Linked DNA regions of Homo sapiens. The protein of the gene in region 1 purifies or fractionates together with the protein of each later gene. This does not show direct contact. Each region holds a gene or a part of one and is shown in the gene's direction. Other genes may lie near its edges.

Region 1 (3,491 bases):
TAGCCAGGATGGTCTTGATCTAGAACTACTAATTTCATATCTTTCCTCCCCACTCCACCTCTCTTCTGAGCTCCAGCCTCCTAGTTCCATGTACCTAGCCTACCTCTCCCCTTGGAGGGCTCACAGGCATCTCAAAGTTACCGAATAGGCCAAACAGGACTTTATGCCCTCAAATATTCCTCCTTTGTTCTTCCATATGTCAGCAAACCACACTTCTGTCCACCTACTTATTCACACCAGAAACCTAAATTACCTGTCAATCCAACACTACTTCTTGTTGGTTCGATTTCCAAGTTATATCTAGAATCCTTCCCACTGCCCCCCTCCTCCACCCACCATCTTGGCACCTGAACTTCACAGGAGCCTCCTAACTTGCCCCTTCCCAGCACTGCTGTGCCCGGCCGCCACAGTCACCTTTGAAAATGCACGGCTGCTACTTCATGGCCTTGCCTAAAGCCCCTCAGGAACCAAGTTCCAGATGTGGTCTGGCTCCTGCCTACCTCAGCAGTGTCCTTGGTGTCATTGTCCCTCTTCTGCCATGCTCCCGCCTGCTGGCTCTTTCTGTCCTTCCAAGCCCTCATGCCTCCCTCCCTCAGAGCCTTCACACATGCTGTTCCCCTCTCTGTAGTGCTCTTCCCCTCACTCTTCATCTGCATGACGCCTCGTCCTCCTTGGTTCTCAGCTAAAATGTCACTTTGTGACCCCCAGCCTTGATCAGGTCCCAGTGATCACTCCAGCACCCTGCATTCTCCCTTGAAGCCTTGAGCACCAAGGCCATGACTTAGGTACGAGGTGACTTTATGCCACCTGTAGTAGATGGTAAGCTCTGTGAGGCCAGGGACCATGGCCAGTTTGTTCATGGTGGTATCTGTGCCAGTGCCTGGCGCATGGTATTAATAAATGTGTGTACATGTTTGTCAATAATTTTATTTAAAGAAAAGTCTGAGCCCATGTTCTTTAAAATGTTGATGGTGGTTGTCTGGGTGTGGAATTATGAGTGACTTGTTTTGTTCTTTGTACTTTTCTGTGCTTTTTGCTTTGTTTTCAATAAGAGGCAATAACTGTCATTTTGACAGAAGCCACTGTGCTGGGGAACTGGAGCTGTCCTCTCTGCAGAATGCATCTGGACTTACCTCTGCCCCCTTGCCTTCTGTCCCCACAGGCCTGAGGAGCGATGCGACAGGCATGATGGAGGTCGAGTCCTCCTACTCGGACTTCATCTCCTGTGACCGGACAGGCCGTCGGAATGCGGTCCCTGACATCCAGGGAGACTCAGAGGCTGTGAGCGTGAGGAAGCTGGCTGGAGACATGGGCGAGCTGGCACTCGAGGGGGCAGGTTAGAGCCAGCAGGTCCTTGGCACTACTGCATGCCAGAGGCCCTCTGCCGGGCCCCGGGCTAGCCTCCAAGTCCTAGACTGCCCATACTTTCTTAGAGAAGAAACCACATTTAAGTCAGGCCTGCCCCATGGTCAGTGGCAGAGTCCAGCAATCTCTAGGTTGGAAGATGTTTGAGTCTCAGGCCCCAAGGACTCCTCTGGACAGGCATCCGGGACTCTTCCTGTCCCCCTGCCCCCTAGCCCAGGTCCCTCCACTTCTCGCTATCCCCACAGCTATACCTGGCTCTGGCCACTCACAGCTCTCACCTGGCTGACTTTAGCGGCCGGCTTCCCTGGGCTCCCTACACCCATCTCCGCCCTTCCTGTTCAGCTCTATGCAGCAGCCAGCAGACCCCATTTAAACCATTCTGTCCATCATGCTTCTGCCAAAAAAAAAAAATCCCCCAGTGGCTTCACTGAGTGAAGCTAAGCTTGTCACATTGCCCTGGGGCAGTCCTGCTGTAGGCCGGGCCCTGCCCAAGTCTCACCCGGTGCCACTCCTCTCCCTGACACCCTCCAGCTACATCTACCTTTGGTCTGTTTCTCAGTCAAGCCTCTCCAAGGGGCCTTCTCTGAGTGCTAGATCAGCCTTCCCCAATCACATGACCCTCATCACTCTCTGACAAGGTCTCAGGGGTCTAAATGTGAGCGCCGGGAGGGCAGAGGCCTTGCATTCTGTTTGGCACACAGCAGGTGCTTGGTAACCACAGACCGAATGACAAAAGGAAACAGCATCCACCCACCCAAGTCCTGGCTGGAACACCCCCACCCCCTCCATTCCCCCAGAGAACCCCTTGGCTCAAGTCCACAGTCAGCCTGGGAATTTCCTTGGGAAGCTTCCCTGACCCCTGCACGGCTGAGGCCTTTCCCTCCTGCTCTCACAGCGCCACAGAGGCCGTGTGTGCTTCTCACAGCACAGCCATCAGGCTGCAACTGTCTCCCCGTGGGCTGTCCGGAGGGCCACAGCCCTGCCCCTCCCTGGGTAGCCCTAGTCTTCTTGCCCCTCACTGGCCAGAAGTGAATCAAAAGTACAGAACAGAGAAGACTTTGCCGGGGCTTGGACCCAGCCCTCTCATGTTACAGATGGACAAACTGAGGCCCAGAGAAGTTGGAGGACTTGCTCTGGGCCACCCAGGGAGTTAACATAGAATCTGGCCGGCTTGAGAGAGAGCCCCCAGCACCCTGTCGACGGAACCCCACCCCAAAAGCCTTCCCTGTCCCATAATCTATTCATTCTCCTCTGTCACGTGGCCCAGGCAGAACCTCCACAGGCTCACCCTGCTCGCCTCTCCAGCATCAACTCTCATCCTCTCGCCAGCCATAGTCAAGTACTTTGATCGCTCAGAAGCCCCTGTGGGCCTTCACACGCTGCACCTCTGTTTGCTTCTCCCCTCCCTCCCCTTGCCTGGCTGGGTTCTCTTCATTCTTAGAGACCCAGGCATCTGCTCAGCTGAGAAGCCTTCCCTGACCGCAGTACCCCTCCCAGACCGGGGAGGCACCTCTTCTCCCTGCTGCCTCCATGAGCCCACTGAGCATAATGGCCCTGCTCTAGACTGAGCTTCTCCAGCACAGGCTCTGTGTCTTGTGCCCTCGGTGCCTGGTGGTGTTTGGCACATGATGGAGGTACCGAGTCAATGGCTGTTCATTGACCGACTGAATGACCAGCATGTCCAGCTGCCACACTGGGCACGCTGCCCTGGGCTCTCTCTCAAGGCTTCTGTGTCCTCACCCTCAGCTCTGGTGAGCTCTGTTCTGTCTCTCTCTCCCTCAGCAGTTGTAGCTGCTGGCCCATGTGCCCAGGCTCTCCTAACACCTGTTTTCCCTGACTCAGATTCCCTAAAGTATGGGTCCTCTGGCTACATGACATTCACCTGCCAGGGTGACTGACATTTAAAAAGGGGGCCTGAGGAAAGAACAGTGCTCACTGAAGGAAAGGAAACACTCACGGTGGCGTCCAGGCAAGAGTGACTGGCCAAGGAGCCTTCCAGGAAGCCCGCAGGGAGCAGTTCCGTTTCACAGGCGGGGCTGCGGGCCACGCCCACTCCAGCGACTCCCCAAGGCAGGGGGAGTACAGAGTTCCAGGCGCCACCCCGCTGGGAATAAAAGCAGGCTTTC
Region 2 (4,025 bases), on another chromosome or scaffold:
TATTTTTAGTAGAGACAGGGTTTCACCATGTTGGTAAGGCTGGTCTTGAACTCCTGACCTCGTGATCCGCTGGCCTCGGCCTCCTAAAGTGCTGGGATTACAGGTGGGAGCCACCGCACCAGGCCTCTTTTTTTTTTTGAGACGGAGTCTTGCTCTGTCGCCCAGGCTGGAGTGCAGTGGCGCGATCTCGGCTCACTGCAAGCTCTGCCTCCTGGGTTCACGCCATTCTCCTGCCTCAGTCTCCCGAGTAGCTGGGACTACAGGCACCTGCCACTACGCCTGGCTAATTTTTTGTATTTTTAGTAGAGACACAGTTTCACCGTTTCTACCATAGAGCCAGAGAGGGCCCCCTCCTGTTTTTTTATCTCTTACCAAGACCTCCTGGGGCTCCTCATTCCTTCAGGATGGTCTCGATCTCCTGACCTTGTGATCCGCCCGCCTCGGCCTCCCAAAGTGCTGGAATTACAGGTATGAGCCACCGCACCCGGCCTTTTTTTTTTTTTTTTGAGAAGCAGTCTCTGTTGCCCAGACTGGAGTGCAGTGGCACGATCTCAGCCCACTGGAACCTCTGCCTCCCGGCTTCAAGCAATTCTCCTACCTTGGCCGCCCAAGTAGCTGGGATTGCAGGCGCCCACCACCATGCCCAGCTAATTTTTTTTTTTTTTTTTTTTAGACGGAGTTTCGCTCTTGTTACCCAGGCTGGAGTGCAAGGGCGCGATCTCGACTCACCACAACCTCCGCCTCCTGGGTTCAAGCGATTCTCCTGTCTCAGCCTCCCAAGTAGCTGGGTTTACAGCCATGTGCCACCACGCCCAGCTAATTTTGTATTTTTTTAGTAGAAACGGGGTTTCTCCATGTTGGTCAGGCTGGTCTCAAACTCCCGACCTCAGGTGATCCGCCCACCTCAGCCTCCCAAAGTGCTGGGATTACAGGCGTGAGCCACCGCGCCTGGCCTCAAGTGGGTTTCTGAGGGGCTATTTCTTGCTCATTAGTTGGGGGACCGGCCCTCACCACAGATTCCAGAAGCCCAGCAATGCACACTCAGCCCTCAGTGGGCTGTCTCTGAAGGTCCTGTCCCTTTTTCGCTTCCCCCCCGCTGGAGCTGCTTCTCCCGCTTGCGGGAGCCCAGGCTGAGAGCAGACACCCAACCTGTCGAACCTGTCTGACGTCATCATCTCTCCACCCACCTGGGCCCCAGGTCTCCAGCCACCCCGCTCTTCCTGTTCTCAGCTTCCGTCCTCTCTGCTTCCTTACAGCACCCCCACCTGCCAGAGCTGATCCTCCCTAGGCCCTGCCTAACCTTGAGTTGGCCCCCAATCCCTCTGGCTGCAGAAGTCCCCTTACCCCCAATGAGAGGAGGGGCAGGACCAGATCTTTTGAGAGCTGAGGGTTGAGGGCATTGAGCCAACACACAGATTTGTCGCCTCTGTCCCCGAAGACACCTGCACCCTCCATGCGGAGCCAAGATGGGGAATGGAACTGAGGAAGATTATAACTTTGTCTTCAAGGGTGAGTTGGGTTCCCTGAAGCAAGAGGAAGCCTGAGAGACCCAGAAAGAGATTGAATAGAGCCAGAGAGGGCCCCCTCCTGTTTTTTTATCTCTTACCAAGACCTCCTGGGGCTCCTCATTCCTTCAGAAAGAAAGCTGCAGGGAGTGGGGGAGGGTCTGGTTGCAGGGGCAAAAGTCAGGGAGCTTCTGAGTATGCTCTACTGTGGTAAATAATGATGTTGATTCCTCCTTAAGAGTGCTGAGTTAGGCTCCTCTGCCCCGTTCCTAATAGAAACCCAAATCCCTGGTGTCAGCCAGTGCAGCACAAGAGATGGAGGTCAGACTTCAGAAAGGACTTCCCTCTTTTATTTTTTTTTCTGAGACGGAGTCTTGCTCTGTCGCCCAGGCTGGAGTGCAGTGGTACAATCTCAGCTCACTGCAACCTCCACCTCCTGGGTTCAAGCGATTCTTCTGCCTCGGCCTCCCAAGTAGCTGGGACTACAAGCACCTGCCACCACGCCCGGCTTATTTTTGTATTTTTAATAGAGACGGGGTTTCACCATATTGGCCAGGATGGTCTGGAACTGACCTCATGATCCGCCTACCTCGGCCTCCCAAAGTGCTGGGATTACAGGCATGAGCCACCACACCCGGCCAGGACTTCTCTCTTGAGAAGAAAGGGAAACCAGCAAACAAGAGGAAGAAAGTCATCTTTTCTGGGCAGGTGTACAGGGAACGAGAGAAAGGAGAGACACATCCCATTATAGGGTGGGGCAATAAATACATAGGGAAGACAGAAAATATCATGAATTTGCTGCAGAGTCTGATAGAATCCAGAGGACTCCTAGGGTTGTAGCCTCGTCTGCCTGGCCCTTGGCTGACTCACTGGACCTGCATACCAGGCACTGGGCTCAACTTTGCTGTCCCTGGAAGCATGCATGTATCTTTCTAGCCCCTGTGTTTGGTGCCTTTGCTGTTTTCCAACCCCACCTTCATACTTCCTTTAGGGCAGGGTGGACTCTCCAGCCACCCTACCCCAATGCCTCTCCCAACCTCAGCCCGGCCCCTCCCTTGAGCTGGGACTCTCACTCCAGAACCCGCCCTTGAGCTGGGGAACCTGTACTACTGGCATCTTTTCCAGGAAGGAAAGGGTTAGCAATAGTCTGGGGCAATAATATGAGGAACTACCATTTATTGAGCACTTACTATGTACCTGCCACTACCTCATTAATACCATAACAATCCCCGAAAGTCATATTTTATTTTGAGGGGCAGTGTAACATTGTGGTCAGGAGCCAGACTGGGTTCAGATCTCAGCCCTGCCACTTACAAGTATTGCGGGTTGGTCAGCCGGGTGCAGTGGCTCACGCCTGTAATCCTAGCACTTTGGGAGGCCGAGGCGGCGGGATCACTTAAGGTCTGGAGTTCCAGACCAGCCTGGCCAACATGGGGAAACCCTGTCTCTACTAAAAATTCAAAAATTATCTGGGTGTGGTGGCACGTGCCTGTAATCCCAGCTACTCGGGAGGCTGAGACAGGAGAATCACTTGAACCCAGGAAGCAGAGGTTGCAGTAAGCCGAGACTGTGCCACTGCACTCCAGCCTGGGCAACAGAGCAAGACTCTGTCTAAAAAAAAAAAAAAAAAAAAAAAAGTATTGAGGGTTGGGTTGGGGTCCCTAGAAGCAGACGCTGAGAAGAAGTTGGGGTGTTCAATGTTTGTTTGTTTTTTGAGACGGAGTCTCGCTCTGTTGCCCAGGCTGGAGTGCAGTGGAGCGATCTTGGCTCACTGCAATCTCCGCCTTCCTACAACCTCCGCCTCCTGGGTTCAAGCGATTCTCCTGCCTCAGCCTCCTGAGTAGCTGGGACTACAGGTGTGCACCACCACACCCAGCTAATTTTTGTATTTTTAGTAGAGACAGGGTTTCATCATGTTGGCTAGGATGGTCTCGATCTCTTGACCTTGTGATCCGCCCTCCTAGGCCTCCCAAAGTGCTGGTATTACAGGCGTGAGCCACCGCGCCCAGCTCAATGTTTTTTTACAAATCAGCACCTGTGAAAGGAAGGGAGAGGAAACATAATTGGGCAGAGGGAGAAGTCAAACAGCAACACAGGCTGGACAAACCTGGGTCAAGGGCGGGGAGCTCTGTGATTGCCTCACCTTGCTTGAGCACTGGGTGTAGGCTGCCCAGAAAAGGCATGACTTCCAGTGAGGCCGCTGTCTGCACCAGAGGCAGACGCTGAAGGAGCTGACAGCTGGAGCCTGTCTGCAGCCTGCACTCCCTGCAGCTTGGGGCAAGTCCTTCCTTGAAGGCTGATCTGGCCAGCACATCTCTGTGTTTACAACACTAGCCCTGTTATCTTGGGCAAGTCATTTGACCTCCAAAGCGCCTTGTCTGTAAAAACAGGTAAAATAGTAATGGGATTCATGGCATTCTTATGAGGATTAAATGAGGTAATATGTGTAAAGCTTTTAACGACACTGCCTGGCACATAGTAAGCATTCAGTACACTGTAAACATGAACCATTAGTATCTC

The links.
Region 2: the proteins of PKIG (region 1) and RAB25 purify together in Homo sapiens (affinity purification with mass spectrometry; one large-scale study listed by BioGRID and IntAct). This does not show direct contact.

Annotation. Positions count from the first base shown.
Region 1 is NC_000020.11:44,613,372-44,616,862, forward strand, and holds part of PKIG (cAMP-dependent protein kinase inhibitor gamma), read left to right. Parts: intron 1-1,162; 5' UTR 1,163-1,185; coding exon 1,186-1,336; intron 1,337-3,491. UniProt on the Homo sapiens protein: Extremely potent competitive inhibitor of cAMP-dependent protein kinase activity, this protein interacts with the catalytic subunit of the enzyme after the cAMP-induced dissociation of its regulatory chains.
Region 2 is NC_000001.11:156,059,935-156,063,959, forward strand, and holds the start of RAB25 (ras-related protein Rab-25 precursor), read left to right. Parts: upstream 1-1,225; 5' UTR 1,226-1,466; coding exon 1,467-1,509; intron 1,510-4,025. UniProt on the Homo sapiens protein: The small GTPases Rab are key regulators of intracellular membrane trafficking, from the formation of transport vesicles to their fusion with membranes.